Linked DNA regions of Homo sapiens: all the other regions are linked to region 3. The links come from fine-mapping of genetic effects on gene expression. A gene starts in region 3. Each other region holds a variant in brackets. All regions are shown on one strand. Distances are between the middles of the regions.

Region 1 (5,226 bases), 160 kb after region 3:
CAGGCATGGCTGTATCTATCAGTCAGGATGGGCTAAGCTATGCTGCAGTAAAAAACAACCCCCAGTTTTCAATGGCTTAAAAGAACAGAGGTCTCTTTCTTGTTGGATATACTACAGTGTGTCCAGCCTGGACTGGGAGAAGGCTCTGCTCACCAGGTGATTCAGGATTGTAGGTTGATGGTACCTCTTGAGCCCTGACCATGTGAGGGCCTGAGGGAAAGGGAACTCAGCCCAGAAGTGGCTCACACCCATTTATTTTCCCCATCAGTTAGTTACATGGCTTCCTCCAGCCACAGGGAGTCAGAAAATAAATTTCTACCCCTTGCCTAGAAAGGAAGGAGCGCCGGATATTGCTGAGTAGAATGATTGATCATCAAACACTGGTGCTATGGAAGTAAATAAGAACAAACCATGGTCTGGGCTCTGGAGGAGAACCAAGTCTCATATATGATTTATTGAGTTCTTACTGCATATACAACACTTTGTAGTTGTTATGGCATTTGATCTTCACATTAGTCATGAGAAGTTTTCTAACTTCAATTTCAGGGCAGAAAACTTAGTCCTGGCAAAACTAAATGACTTTATTAACATCACTCAGCTGGTAGGACTTGAAGGCAAAATTCTGGCTTCAAAGTATGAGCTCTGTATGGTACCCCAAGGACTCATATCTCCCTGCTTGAACCTTGGATTTCCACCCATGTCATCCTCAATGCCACTGATAAACACGGTAGTCTCGGGGTCTCTTAGATATTCTGGGTAGGGAAGAATTCAATGATCGCCCCATGGTGGGAAGGGAAAAGATGAGAGATTAATTTGGGTAAATCCATTCTGGCTTGATTCACCCAAATCAAGCCCATCTGGTAGATATGATTATTTTGTCTTGTGTCAGATAAATGATCACGATGCCTGACAAGCAATCTTCATAAAACTTCATTCTTTATAAACCTTTTCCCTGCTCAGTGGGCTTCATCAGTGATTCCTTATTGCCTTCAGGAAGAAGTCTAGTTTTCTTTGATTTTCAAAGTCCTGCCCAGTTGGGCACATGCCCCTCTCATGGCCCCTTTTCCTTGTCCAGTGTGCTCTGTCTGGAGCTTCCATCCCAGCTGCCTCCCCCTCAGCACTTCTGCACATGGAGAGATTCAGGTAACAGAAAATTGTGAGTATGGACTAACATATTAACAGTAGGGTGGGTGAAGAGGGAGAGATATCGGAAGACTTATGTGTCAGGAAATAGAGTTTACATTTCTTTTTTTTCTTTCTTTTGAGACAGGGTCCTGCTCTGTCACCTGTGCTGGAGTGCAGTGTCACAATCACAGCTCACTGCAGCCTCAAAATCACAGGTTCAAGTAATCCTCCCACCTCAGTCTTTCAGGTAGCTGGGACCACAGGCATGTGCCACCATGCCTGGCTAATTTTTTTGTATTTTTTGTAGAGATGGGGTGTTGCTATGTTGCCCAAGCTGTTCTCAAATACTTAGGCTAAAGTGATCTTCCTACCCTGGTCTCCCAGAGTGCTGGGATTATAGGTGAGAGCCACTGTGCCCAGCCTAGAGCTTACGATTTCTTGAATGGGGCAACCAGTGGTCAAAATTCTGAAGACAGTGAAAGGAAGAATAGTGTGCAAGAGAGTAACTCCATGAAATTGCTTTATCCCCTCAACTGAACTGAATTGATAATGATGATGTTAGAATCCCAGCAGCTGCCATCTACACCAAGCACCTCTGTGCTGGTCTCTGTGTTAGATCCCTCATGAACATTATCTCACCTAATTATCATAAAGTGCCTGGGCCTAGGAAGCGTTTATAATACCACCATTGACATTTGAGAAAGTAGGTTGGATACTTTAACAACCTTGTCCAAAACTGCAACATCGAAAAAAAACAGAATCAGGATATGGCCCCCCAACTGTCTACTTCCAAAGCCTAGATTGTTTCCTCTATACCACTGCATCTTCAAGGGCAATAGATTTCCTGTTGCTGACACAGGGATTTAGGTCAAATATGTGAATTTCTAGAGGCCAACTGCCTGATTTGGATGTAACAGCACAATTCCTGGAAGGCTTAAATTGTGCGTCATTGAAGCTCTTCCATTGGAAAGTTGAAATGTCAAACACACACCCACAGCTCAGCACATATGCAATTCAGGAGCCATTTCCTTGAAACTAGCATCTTGTTACAAAGGCATAATGTTGAAGACTGAATCTCCAGCCTGTGTGTGCTACATGTCCTCTTCCCCTTGTCTTTCTCCTCCTCCTCCTCTTTCTTCTTCTTCTTCTCCTCCTCCTCCTCCTCAAGGCTTTCCATATGAGGTCTCTCACCCACTGTTCACACCTTACCCACCTGACCTTCTGCCCTTCCCCATCTCCTCGGGCCATGCACAACAGCCTGGGCCTGGTGTTCCCAGTCTTCTTGCCCTTCTTTGTCCCTTTTCGTCCATCCATCTCTGCACATTCACAGCATAGCTAGTCTTTCATCAGTATCACAGATAATTCATTTTCCTTGAAGACTTTTCTTGTCCTGCCCTCACCGAAGACAAACCTGCACTGTTGTACTTTGTGTCCTCTTATGGTGTGCATTATGAACTCTACTTGTGGGCTTATGTCTGTGATTCCCTTACTAGACTTCAAATTCCATGAAGGCAGGGACCAGGTGTGAAGTCCACTGTTATGAGCCCTGCCCTAGAGAAGGCATTGGCAGGCATTCAAAAACAGATAAATGGGCATTTAATCTATTTTAAAATCTATTCCTTGGAACACTTACAGTATAGTTGCAAAAGTGTTTTCTATCCAAATATTGGTGAAGTAAATTAAGTTTTAGAAATACTTTTTTTTTTTTTTTTGAGACAAAGTCTCCCTCTATGCCCCAGGCTGGAATGCAGTGGTGTGATCACAACTCACTGCAGCCTTGACCTCCTGGGCTCAGGTGATCCTCCCACCTCAGCCCCATGAGTAGCTGGGACTACAGGTATGCACCATCATGCCTAGCTAATTTTTAAATTTGTGTAGAGATGGGGTCTAACTAGGTTGCCTAGGCTG[G/T]TCTCAAACTCCTGAGCTCAAATGATCCTCCCACTTTAGCCTCCTAAAGTGCTGGGATTACAGGTGTGAGCTACCATGCCCTACCAGAAATACTTCTTATATCCCCTGTCTTGAAGAGTCCCGTGAATAGTGGCATACCAAAAGCTCTGAGAATTCCTTCAGTAAAGAACTTCATTTTCACTTTTTAAACTAGTAAAAACCAAACTTATTTGTCTATTAGCATGCTTTTCCACAAATACACATTACTCCTCAGAACTCTTCCCTAGGTGTGCTGTAAGAAATTAAGAAGACAAGGCCTTCCTGGTCCAAGGCTAATGGAAAAGATTTGTAATTCTGGGAGAGAGAAATAGGGAAAGAGTGGGATCTTGAGCTTCCTGGCAGTACAGCTACCACTTGGGGAGAAATAGCAGTATCAGGAGCCCCCAGAGGTAGTCTTGTCAACAATGGGATGACCAGAAGAGTTACTTCTACAAGGAAAGAGCCAAACCACTGGAGGTCCCCAGGAGGACCAGGGGGAAAGCACTTGTGTGTGAGTCTGGGACTCTGTCCAGGGAGGTAGGACTAGGGGAGGAGGGGGGATGGAAGCTTATTTGCTTGCGGAATAAGAGGCTGTGAAATGTGGCCCATCTCCTCCCTGCCAGCCTTCTCTCTTCTGTTAACTCACCATGTGCAATGACCCCATGAGGTCAGCATCATCCTCTCTGGGGAAGAAAGAACAAACACAAACAAGCAAACAAACAATCTTGCTTCACAGAGTAAAATGCACATTTGTTCATTTGAAAAGTAAACAAACTCGCATTTTACACTGTGAATCACGCAAGCTCTAAAATGATCAAGCGACAAGTCTCTCTGATTTTGTTTTTACTTCAGTAAATGGGGCTTTTATAGTTCATTTTATAAACTGCTATTTATTGGGTATTTGCCATAGTATTTTATCTTCATGACAACGTTGAGAGTTAAGACTCACCAATGAAAACTGAAGCCGAGGGACTAACGGTAATTCATTCAACACTCGTGCAGCAAATAATTGTTTAGCTCCTACTGTGTGCCAGGTGCTATTACAGAGCAGGACACAGGCGATTTTATTTAATGGTCTTTTTACTTACTAATCTTTATTAAGCATTTACTGTGTGTCAGGGACCGCTCTGATGTTTTATACAGGCCATCATTTTTAATTTTCACAATTAGTAAGCAAGTAGATGTGATTATTATAGACATTTAGAAGGTGGGGAAACAGAGGCATAGCATGCAGAAAAACATGTCTAACATGACACAGCTACCAAAAGTCAGAACCAGGATTCAGACCCGAGCAGTCAAGGTTATTTGTGCAAGTAATATTCAGATGTGACACCTCTCAAAACAAGCAATTTTTCCCTACTGTCTGTGGGCTTACTGTCAGCCTTTTAAAGAGCTCTCAAAATGTAAGTCATGACTTTCTGCACTGAGGTGACTATGTGGATCATGTGAAGGGTACGAAAACCGGAGATAAACCGCAGTCCCCACAAAGGTTTTCCTGCAGAAGCACCCCATGGCTGCTTAATCAAAGCAAACTGGCACCTCGTGAAGTCAGAATGCCCTCCACATCCTGTGATTTCATCCAAACTTTCCAATTTTGTTATGTTAGCAAAGGCCACCAGGCAATTTCTCCCACATTTGTCATCGTCCCTTAAAACATTATATAATTGGAAGTTGCTGTGTTGGTGAGGGTAGGATGACATTTTATGTGCATTCAATTTGGACATAAGTGTCATATTTGCACGAGGTTGGGGCTGCTGGCTGTAAGTATAAAATTTCATGAGTGATGAGTTGGCCTGCAAGAGATCTCGATGAGTGAGAGGAAACACGCTTTTTATGACCCTGGCGGAGATAAATCAATGATCGCAGGCAGAAGGTCGACATCGTTTTTTTAAAATCAAGTGTCTGCTCTCTGCGCTTTCTGGTTCTGTCTCTACAGAATATATTCTCTGCATCCTATGTTCTAAAACTCAGATAAAACCTGATCAGCATGAATTCACTTAGTTGTATTTAAATAATATATACGTACATATAGATAATCTCGAGGAGCTGTTGTGCATTAGCACTGCTGTTTTCAGGACACTTTTAACCCATTATTGCTTTTCACTGTGATTTAATTCTGGGGCTGTTCTTCGATTCCTTCTTTTCCCTCATCCATCACCTCATTGAGTCCAAGAA
Region 2 (5,226 bases), 21 kb before region 3:
TAAGAGCCTGTGCTTCCTTTTCTACATGCTCTATGATGCTATTGCTTTCTCTCTGCCATGGGACCACCCAAGTTTTGCTTGGGCTTTGCTTTTGGGCAGAGATTATGAAAAGCAATTCATGTGGTTGATGCTCTATCAGCCTCAAACTGCGGTGGAGAAGACCCAGAGTGATGTCCCAGACAATCTGTGGTAAGGACTAGGAGTTGTTTGTTACAGCAGTGTAATCTAGCCCATCCTGACTGTGGCAGGCAGAATTCTACAATGACCCCTGTATTAGTTCACTCTCACACTACCATAAAGAAATACCTGAGACTAGGTAATTTATAAAGAAAAGAGGTTTAATTGGCTTATGGTTCGGTAAGCTATACAGGAAGCATGATGCTGCCATCTGCTCAGCCTCAGGAAACTTACAACCTGGTGGAAGGCAAAGGGGAGCACATCGCATGGCCGGAACAAGAGGCAGGAGGTGCCACACATTTTTAAACAACCGGGTCTCAGGAGAACTCACTATCATGATGACAACATCAAGGGAGATGGTGCTAAACCATTCAGGAGAAACCATCCCCATGATCCAATCACCTTCCACCAGTCCCCACCTCCAACACTAGGGATTACAATTGAACATGAGATTTGGGTGGAGACACAGATCCTAACCATATCATCCCCAATGACCCTTGCAGAACCCCCTCCACTGAGTTGGGGGTAGGCCTATGAATAGGATGAGATCTCTCCTGTGGTTAGGTTAGTTACATGGCAAAGGGATCTTGCAGTTGTAATAAAAGTCACTTGATCAAAAGAGAGATAAGCCAGGTGATCCTAATGCAATCACACAAACACTTTTAAAACAGTAAGTGTTGCAGGCTGGGAGCAGACGAGGGAGTCAGAGAAATTTCAGGTGTGGAAAACATTCAACCCAGTGTTGCTGGCTTGACAGTGGAGGGAGACACAAGAGAACGGATGCTGGTGGCCCTCAGAAGTAGACAGTGGCCCCTGATTGACACCAGCAAGGAAATGGGAACCTGAGACCTAGGGCTGTAAGCAATGGGGCTCTGTTAACAATCTGACACAACCAGGAAAGGTCTGTTAACAACCCATACAGCCTGGAAGCCGGTCCTCCCCGACGGCTCCTGCAGACGAACCCAGGCTGTCCGACACCTTGATTTTGGCCTTGTGAGAGCCAGAGCAGGGAACTCAGCAGACTCCCACCCAGGCGCCCATCTCCAGAGCTGCAAGCTGATAAATGGTATTGTTTAAGCCTTCAAGTTGGTGGTCATTTGTTACACAGTAATATGGTTAAATTTTGTGTTCCCGCCCAAATCTCATCTTGAATTGTAATCCCCATAATCTCCACGTGTCAAGGAAGAGACCAGGTGGAGGTAATTGAATTATGGGAGTGGTTTCCCCATGCTATTCTCATGATAGTGAATGAGTTTTCATGAGATCTGATGGTTTTATAAGGGGCTCTTCCCGCTTTGCTCAGCACTCTCTTTTCTGTGTCCTTGTGAAGAAAGTGCCTTGCTTCCTCTTCACCTTCCACCATGATGGTTAAGTTTCCTGAGGTCTTCCCAGCCATGCTGAACTGTGAGTCAGTGAAACCTCTTTCCTTTATAAATTACCCAGTCTTGAGCAGTTCTTTATAGCAGTGTGAAAATGGACTAATACACACAGCAACTCATTAGAAAACCAATACATGGACTAATGCACTATTATTCGAGGTTATTCACTGAGGTTGATGATTTTTCAAGCTAGTAACACATGTGCCATATTACCCATGCTGCCTTCTAAGGATGTGTCAATTTCTTTATCAGATTTGGGATTTCCTGATAGCAGGAGCTGAGCTGGTCATCTCCGGATCCCCCAGACCTAGCATGGATACTGAATGGAATACTTTTAGAAGATGTGAGTAGCACCTGGTAACATTGTGAAGTTGATGAAACTTTTCTGCCATGCTGTCATATCCTGGCATGATAGTCTGGGTGCCTGGAAACGAACAATAGCTAATGTGGATACAGTGTGAGCCGGGTGTCTGGTGCTTGGGGCACTAGGCACTTTAACCAAAGCAATCCTCATAAAAACCTTACAAGGTAGGAGTTGGTATTATCACAGCCTCAATTCACAGAAGAGGAACCAGAGGGTGGGAAGTTAAGTAACTTGCTCAAGGTCATACCATTAATTAATAGTGGAGCCCAGGTTCAAACCTAGACAGCTAGGTTCAATCTGTGTTCCCAGCCACCACATCTTCCTGCCACTTAAGACGAGGGACTCAATACATATTCACTGAAGGCAAGAAGGAAAAAAAGTAATTTACATGAATGCTAACAAGCTGTGTGTATTAGGTTCTCCTAAGAAAAAGAATGTGTGTATGTATAGACACATGCACACACACACACATCTATACATATACATGGAGAGAGAGAGAGAAGGCTGATTTTAAGTAATTGAGTCAATTAAATAATTGATTTTAAATAATTGTGGAAGCTCAGCAAATCCAAATTTTGCAAGGCAGACTGACAGGCTGGAGACCCAGGGGAGAGGTGATGTTGAAGCTCTAGTCCAAAGGTTATCCAGAGGCTGAATTTTCTTGCTCTTGGTGGGTCTCAGACTTTTTCTGAGCCTTCAACTGATTGGACGAGGCCCACCCACATTATGGAGTGTCATCTGCTTTATTTAAAATGTACTGATTTAAATGTTCATCTCATGTTAAAAACCCCTTCACAGAAACATCTGGAATAATGCTTGACGAAATACCTGAGTACAGACTGTGACCCAGTCAAGCTGACACATGAAATTAACCATCACACTGTCGGACTCTGGGCAAGTGCCTCACTTATCTTTGAACTTTACTTTCCTTGGAAAATGAGGGATGACTTTATTTAGAGGGTTTGAGGCCAGTCTGGGCAACATAGTAAGACATCATCTCTGGTATAAAAAAACAAAACTTAGCTGG[G/C]TATGGTGGCATGTGCCTGTGGTCCTAGCTACTGGGGAGGCTGAGGCGGGAGGATCACCTGACTCCAAGAGGTCGAGGCTGGAGTGAGCAGTGATCACATCACTGCACTCCAGTCTAGGAGACTCTGTCTCCAAAAAAAAAAAGATAAATATGTTTGGAGTCTGTTCTCCATTATAAATTTGGTGATTCATTGCTTTTAAGGGGCCAATCATGAGAATGCCAAGTCCTCTTTGCACAGGGATGTAAGAAGCTGCACGTTACAGAGGCCCAAATGTGGGTTCATGGGCAGGTCGGGGTCCCACTTAGCAGGCCTGTGATATCAAGAAGGTGCTTGACACCACGGCCTCAGTCCCCTCCTCAGATCCCTCACCCAGTTGTGGGTGTGAGGATTTAAGTGGAGGCCCAGTTTCAGACAGAGTGGCTGCTCACTCAAGGCTGGTCGCTCTCACCAGATCTGTGTCTATAGAGCACTTAGAAAATTCCCCAACTGGGAAACAGATACCACCTTGCATTACAGACTGTATGTTTTTTACCCTTTGTTTTGCTAATAGAATGCTGAATGATTCACCAAGCAGACTTTTTAAAACAAATTAACAGAATTGACTTAGCTAAACAAATACGTTTTTTGTATCAGTTGCATATACAACGATATATAGGTCCTTTGAAATTAGAACTTGAGACTAGTAGCCAGTTATGACTCCTGAGCTCCTAGAAAGAAAAAAAAAAAAAAACCTGGCCGGGCACAGTGGCTCACACCTGTAATCCCAGCACTTTGGAAGGCCAAGACGGGCGGATCACTTGAGGTCAGGAGTTCGAGAGCAGTCTGGACAACGTGGTGAAACCCCGTCTCTACTAAAATACAAAAATTAGCCGGGCGTGGTGGTGCACAACTGTAGTCCCAGCTACTCAGGAGGCTGAGGTGGGAGAATTGCTTCAACCCGGGAGGCGGAGGTTGCAGGCAGTTAGCCGAGATTGTGCCATTGCACTCCAGCCTGGACGGCAAAGCAAGACTCCATCTCAAAAAAAAAAAAAAAAAAAAAAAAAGAAGAAAGAGAAAGAAAAGAAAAAAACCCCTAAACTGCATTTTCCATCTTTCATGATTTCTGTTATAATGAAAGATGACCAGTTTCTAGAGCTATATTATTTTCCCCCATACCTATGAAAAAAAATTTTATTGTAGTAAAATATGCATAATATAAAATTTATCATTTTGACAATTTTTACAATTTGGTGTTAAATACATTCACATTGTTGTACAACCATCACCACCATCTACCTCTAGAACTTTCTCATCTTCCCAAGCTGAAACTCTGTCCCCATTAACCACTAACTCCCCACTCCTCGCTCCCTCCAGACCCTGGCAAGCACCCTTCTATTTTCTGTCCTTTAGAGGCCCAGTTTGATTTAAAGGTTTAAACTCAAACCAGACAGTTGAACTCTCTGAGCTCACAGACCGGCTCTTTCCCTTCCCAGCTGTGTGACTTTATCTCATTTCTTCATCTATAAAATGGAGGCCACACTTTTACCTCTCACATGGGGCTGAGAGAGGATTAAATGGTCAATATTTCCAAAGGCCCGAGGCTACTGCTGGTGTAAGGTAAGTACTGGAGATTTGCTATTATTATTTATGTAACTTCCAGCCCCACAAACACAGTCCCCAACCACCAAACACCCCACACACTAGCCTATAAGGGCCCCAGGGTCAGCGGCCTCATGGAAGGAAGAGAACGCTGGCGGAATGAGGGAATGAATGATGCCCTTGATTGCCTTTCCACTTACAACACGGTAGGTGATACGGCGTCCACAGCTGCAGCACGGTCACCATAAACAAGCATTTCCCCAGCTGGGCCATGGCCCGTGGAAACCCTGCTTCTCCCTCCAGGTTCCTGTGGACTCCAGCTTCTGGGAAGGTAAGGCTTCCTCCCTTGGGAAGCATTTTGAGTGTTTTGGCCTGTGTCCTTTCAGGAAGCCCCGTAGCCAACACACACCCCAGGGCAGGAAGTGGGTGAGAACAACTTAGACCTTGGACAGAAAGCAATTCGGAAACTGGCTCAGCCTCTTCTCGTTGCTGGCACGGCAAGCAGTGTTAAGTGTGAGCAATTTTTTGTTTTGTTTTGAATTTGAATGGTTCCTTTTTCTCCTTCACGAGGAGGCCATGGTTTCTGAGAGTGGGGCTTGCATGTGGCAAAGAATAAGGATGGCAAGAAGGGCGGAAGCACCCCTGAGCACTGCAGCTGCTACTTCCAGTGCACTCTCTGTTTACAACCGCCCTGGGAGAT
Region 3 (5,226 bases):
TCCCACTCTCTAGGCCTGGAGAACTTTGCACCAGTAGCCTCCTTTCTTCTTCCAACCCGGTTGATTCCTTGCCCTTCCAGTCTCAGCGCCAGCACCCTCTCTGGCCAATGCCTTCTTTTCTTTTGTTTTTTTTTTTTTGAGACGGAGTCTCACTCTGTCACCCAGGTTGGAGTGCAGTGGCACAATCTCAGCTCACTGCAACCTCCGCCTCCCAGGTTCAAGGGATTCTCCCACCTCAGCCTCCCGAGTAGCCGGGATTACAGGTGGGTGACATTTCTGTCATGCGTGTCCGTGTGAAGAGACCACCAAACAGGCTTTGTGTGAGCAATAAAGCTTTTTAATCACCTCAGTGCAGGCGGGCTGAGTCCGAAAAGAGAGTCAGCGAAGAGAGATATGGGTGGGGCAGTTTTATAGGATTTGGGTAGGTTATGGAAAATTAAAGTCAAAGGGGTTCTCTGGGAGGCAGGGGCGAGGGTCACAAGGTGCTCAGTCGGGAGCTTCTGAGCCAGGAGAAGGAATTTCACAAGGTAATGTCATCAGTTAAGGCAGGAACAGGCCATTTTCACTTCTTTTGTGATTCTTCAGTTGCTTCAGGCCATCTGGATGTATATGTGCAGGTCACAGGGGTTATGATGGCTTAGCTTGGGCTCAGAGGCCTGGCAATCACACCCAGCTAAGTTTTGTTTTTTTAGTACAGATGGGGTTTCTCCATATTGGCCAGGCTAGTCTCAAACTCTTGACTTCAGGTGATCCACCCGCCTCAGCCTCCCAAAGTGCTGGGATTACAGGTGTGAGCCCCCACGCCCGGCCTAGCACAATATCAATATATTCCTCATAACAATGTTAGAAAGGGAAAGTTCTCTTATTAGCACCTTCTGGACTCAGATGAAGAAACTGAGTCCAGAACAGGTTAAGTAATTTATCCAAGTTAACTGGCTAATGAGGGGCAAAGCAGAATGAAACCTGGGTAGAATGAGCCCAGAGCCCATGCCTGTCCACATTCCGCCCTATGCTTCTTGAGCTAGGGGCCAGCTCTGTGTTCAGGGCATTGCCTGCTGCACACTGGCTACTCAGTGTATGCTTGTTGGTGGAATGAAAGGCAAGAAATATTTATTCATCATTTATTATATGCCGGGCACTGTTGCCTGCTTTTATAAATATTACCTGATATAATTCTCACAGACAACCCAAGGAGTTAATATCAATCAGCCCACTTTGCAGATAAGAACTCCAAAGTGGGACACATTGCCAGTAAATGGTAGAGCCAGCTCTGGGTCATGGTGGGTGGGCCTGCCTCAGACCTTCTCAGTTCTTTCCCACTGCCTTTAAGAGATTTTTTGTTTTGTTTTGTTTTGTTTTGTTTCTGTATGAGTCTCCCCGGCTTCCCTCACCCTTCTCCCAAGAAAAAGAAAGAAGGGGAGAGAACTGGAGAGAGAGACCAGGTAGGGGACGGGGACTGGGGGACGAGATAGGATGGAGAGAGTCACAAAGAACCCCTGCTTTCTATCAAAGCACGGACAGTGGTTCCAGGCGCCCAGCAGATGGCAGGATGTAGCCAAAGATTCCCTGCAGTCCCGGAGAGCTGGGCCCGCAGGACTGCAAGGCAGGGGGACCTGCCTGTCCCTCAGGGAGCGTCCTGGGAACCCGCGCTCGCCCCACACGTCTTGGGGCGCATCTGCCGCACCCCTTACTTAGGCACCCGCAACTGTGGCGCGTATCTCCCGATCCAGGCTCCCGCCGCAGGAGCCCAGGGACCCTCATGCTAGCCTCGCCCCTAAATCGGACGCCGATGCCGCCCAATTTTGGGGGAATCCCGAGACTCATGCCCAGCCATTCCCAGGGAGAATGGTTTGGGGCAAACTATGGCTGTCTGGGGCCTCAGTTTCCCCATGTACAATGAAGGGGTCAGATTAGTATCTAATCTTAAGGGGTCAGAAAGTAAACAGATACTTTCATTCATTAAACACTGAGAAAAACCTTAAGAGGAACAGCGTCGGTTGGAGAGCCAGCAGACACTCCACTGCCCATCCCAATATGAATGGGCAAATACAGGCTAGCGGGGAGTCCTGGGACTCCCTTCGCAGCCGGGGCCGACTAACCACAGACCTAAGAGCCCCTCTACCTCTAGACCTCCGTCTACTGCGCTCTAAAATATGAACGATGCTTTCTTACTGCTGGGTTGTCGGAGGCGGATGTGGGATGGTGCTAACAAAGCGCGTAGCCGAGGCCTGGCCATAGTGGGTGCTGACAAACCGCTTACTGCCTGCAGGGACCGAGCTCCCGGCCGAGGGAGGAGGGCCGAGCAGGGATTCAGATTCTTCCGGGCCGATCCCTTTCTCAGCTCCTTCCGCCCTGCCGCCGCCCACTGCGTGCTGCCTTCGTCCGTCCCCTCCTCCCCCGCTCCTTCCCCTCCTTCCCCTGCTCCCGCGCCGCCTCGCGTCTCCCGCCCGCTGTAGCCGGCGAGGAGCGCCGCACGTTGGCCCCGGCGCGAGGAGCTCCCGGGTTCCCGGGCGGGCACTGGAGTAAGGAGCTGCGAGCGCAGCCCGAGGCGGGGCACGGCGGAAGGCGCGGCGAGAGCGGGGTCCCTGCGAGCGCAGTCGGAAGGGCGTCCAGGAGAAGGGGGACGCCGTCCCCGCCCCTGCACGGTGCTCGGCCCCCTCGGGCTCCGCGCGCGGCTACAACCCGGACTGGGCGCGCCCCCGGCATCCCGCATCTCTGCGCGCGTCCCACATCCCGCATCCGGCATCCCAGCGGCCGGGCATGTAGCAGCGGCAGCAACGGCGGAATATGGGCGGGAACCACTCCCACAAGCCCCCCGTGTTTGACGAGAATGAGGAAGGTAAGAGAGCGAGAGGTGCGAATTCCCGCTTCGCGGGGCATCCCCTTCCTCCACCACCCTCGGCCGAGCCCTGCGGGGCACCGCATGCTGCCCGGCGCGGGGACCCAGGCATGGCCACTTCGCCCAGCGAATGCAGTGTGTGCCCGACCCGTGCCAGGCGCGGCGCTTCTGCTGAGGCAACTCCTAGGTACCCAGTGCCGTTTAGTAGTCGGGACGGTGCCTAGCGCGGGACTGGGGAGGCGGCTTCAGAGAGTTGAACCCGAAACCTGCACTTGGGGGTGTGGAAGGGAGGAGTTGACTTCGGAGGCCAGTCGGGATGGTTCTAGGCTCGGGCTCCCCAGGAAACCGAGGTTTCCTTGAGAGCCTGAGGCTGACGGAGGTGGCCTGGAAGGGCGGGTTGCACCGTGTGTCTGTGTGTGTGTGCGCGTGCCCACGACGCATTTGGTCTCGTGCAAGGGCCTGTTGGATGCAGCTCTCCTCAATCACCCAGGACAGAGGGAAACTTTTCTTTGCTAAACTCTGTGGTTCCTAGGAGGGCGTCCTGTTCTGGGCAGCCTCCCCCTGGCGCAGAAGTGGTGTAGGCTGTCCAACCGCATCTCAACTTCCTGGCTGGATCCTTGCGGTTCAGGTCGATAGAGCTCCCTATTTGGACTAGCAGAACCCTCTTTCCAGTGCAGCGTGTCCCTGGAAAACTTACTTCACCTCTCTGAAACATTAGTCCCTTCATCAATGAAATGTGAGTTATGATACCACTAGCTACTTTATAGGGTTGTTTGAAGCTTAACCACTAGTAATCCACGTGAAAAGTGCCTTATAAATGCAAGCAGTACCGAGCTGTGCCGTTTTTTATGTTAAGAGCCCTCTGCCTCTCAAAGCTGGTTTCCTACTGTGCTGACTCGCCAGTCTCCACTGTGCCCCAGGTAAGAGCTGAGACATACTGAGCACTTACTATGTTCCAGCCATGCTAGCACATAGTGTTCACTCCATCCTTTTCATGCCCCTTGAGGTGGCTACCTTAGAAAGGGGTCTGTCCTGGTTACTGCTGGTAAGAAGTAGAGCTGGGCTTGAGGCAGGACAGTCTGCTTTGAAAGCTGTGCCTGTCATCATTACCCAGGGCACTGGCTGTGTGCGTACATCATGGATGGCTTCTAGAACTCCCAAGGCTGTGAGTGCTACTCAGATGCCTGCCTGGACAGCCCTTCTCAAAAAGATAGATGAACACAGTCAAGGTTAAGTGAGCACCTGCTGTGTCAGGCCCACGAGAGCCTTCCTTAAAGGAGTTCCTAGTCTAATGGCCCTGAATGACCGTCCATGGTGATAAGGGCATTGAGAAACCAGTGCAGGGTCTTGGGGGCACAGAGAGGCCCCAGCTTTTCCTGATCTTTAGTCTGGAGCATGTGCAGGTGAGCAGGTAAGGAGCCAGTTGTGGACAGAGGAGAGGTGGGCACAGAGGTAATGGAGGCTCTTGCATGTCCCAGTAAGAGTTTGAACACTATGCAGCATCACCCTCAATTGCACGGGCTTGTGGTTCTAGCCTGGGTCAAAGGTCATGCTTTTGCTAATTTTCCTAGCATCTTTCTCTTTTATTTACAGAGGAAATTTGCCACCCTTATATTGAAAACCGTCTCTGTCATTTATCCCCAGCTTGAAAATATTCATTGGCAAAATAGTTATCTCTGGTGTAGCCAACCTTTTGATTTTCCTGTTCCTGTTCCTTATTCTATAAGCAGATTGGGCCTAAGGTTAACTGCCTGTTTCGGTGCTTGTTAAAATACAAGGTTATGAGGCCGGGCGCGGTGGCTCATGCCTGTAATCCCAGTACTTTGGGAGGCCGAGGTGGACGGATCACCTGAGGTCAGGAGAGGCCTGCCTGGCCAACATGATGAAACCCCGACTCTACTAAAAATACAAAAATTAGCCGGGCATGTTGGCGGGAACCTGTAATCCCAGCTACTCAGGAGGCTGAGGCAGGAGAATCGCTTGAACCCGGGAGGCGGAGGTTGCAGTGAGCTGAGATCGCACCATTGCATTCGAGCCTGGGCACCAAGAGTGAAGCTCCATCTCAAAATAAATAAATAAATAAATAAATATAAATAAATATAAGGTTAGGGCTCTCCTCATTTTGCCATTGCCCAGCCCAGTGAAACATTAACTTGTTTGATTTTGCCAGTATGTCTCTCACACGTTTCCTAGTACAGGTAAAACAGTGTTACTTGCCACCAACCGACTCATTTATTTCGTAGGCATTTACTATTTGTATTTTCTGTACCCACCCCTGTGCTGGGGACCGGGAATATGAGGAGGATGAAGGCAAAGTGTTAACAATTTGCTCCCAGAGCAAGTAAACCACCTGGAAAACACAGGGTGTGTAAGTGCCCTGACGTGGG

Alleles and levels. Alleles are on the strand shown, and positions count from the first base shown. SD is a standard deviation of normalised expression in the study named. Not every link is listed here.
With allele T in place of G in region 1, the expression in skeletal muscle of the gene that starts at base 2,404 in region 3 is lower (small effect, 0.22 SD a copy in GTEx).

Evidence for each region. PIP is the estimated chance that this variant, and not a neighbour inherited with it, causes the effect. A credible set is the group of variants that fine-mapping cannot tell apart.
Region 1: its variant is the best candidate, but not a certain one, in a credible set for the expression of STK32B in skeletal muscle (GTEx, PIP 0.54).
Region 2: its variant is the best candidate, but not a certain one, in a credible set for the expression of STK32B in blood mononuclear cells (TOPMed, PIP 0.80).

The regions. Positions count from the first base shown.
Region 1 is chr4:5,207,977-5,213,202 of GRCh38, forward strand. The region is part of intron 3 of STK32B (serine/threonine kinase 32B); the gene reads left to right. Among named protein-coding and RNA genes, the nearest start is that of STK32B, 160 kb to the left of the region's middle. The variant G/T (reference allele first, on the strand shown) is at 3,034.
Region 2 is chr4:5,028,511-5,033,736 of GRCh38, forward strand. It overlaps a transcript of STK32B not described here. Among named protein-coding and RNA genes, the nearest start is that of CYTL1, 12 kb to the left of the region's middle. RefSeq lists an enhancer at 5,105-5,154. The variant G/C (reference allele first, on the strand shown) is at 2,948.
Region 3 is chr4:5,049,077-5,054,302 of GRCh38, forward strand. It overlaps STK32B (serine/threonine kinase 32B), which reads left to right and starts at 2,404. Exons shown (of 12, transcript NM_018401.3): 1 at 2,404-2,839. The coding sequence starts at 2,788. RefSeq lists an enhancer at 3,106-3,644.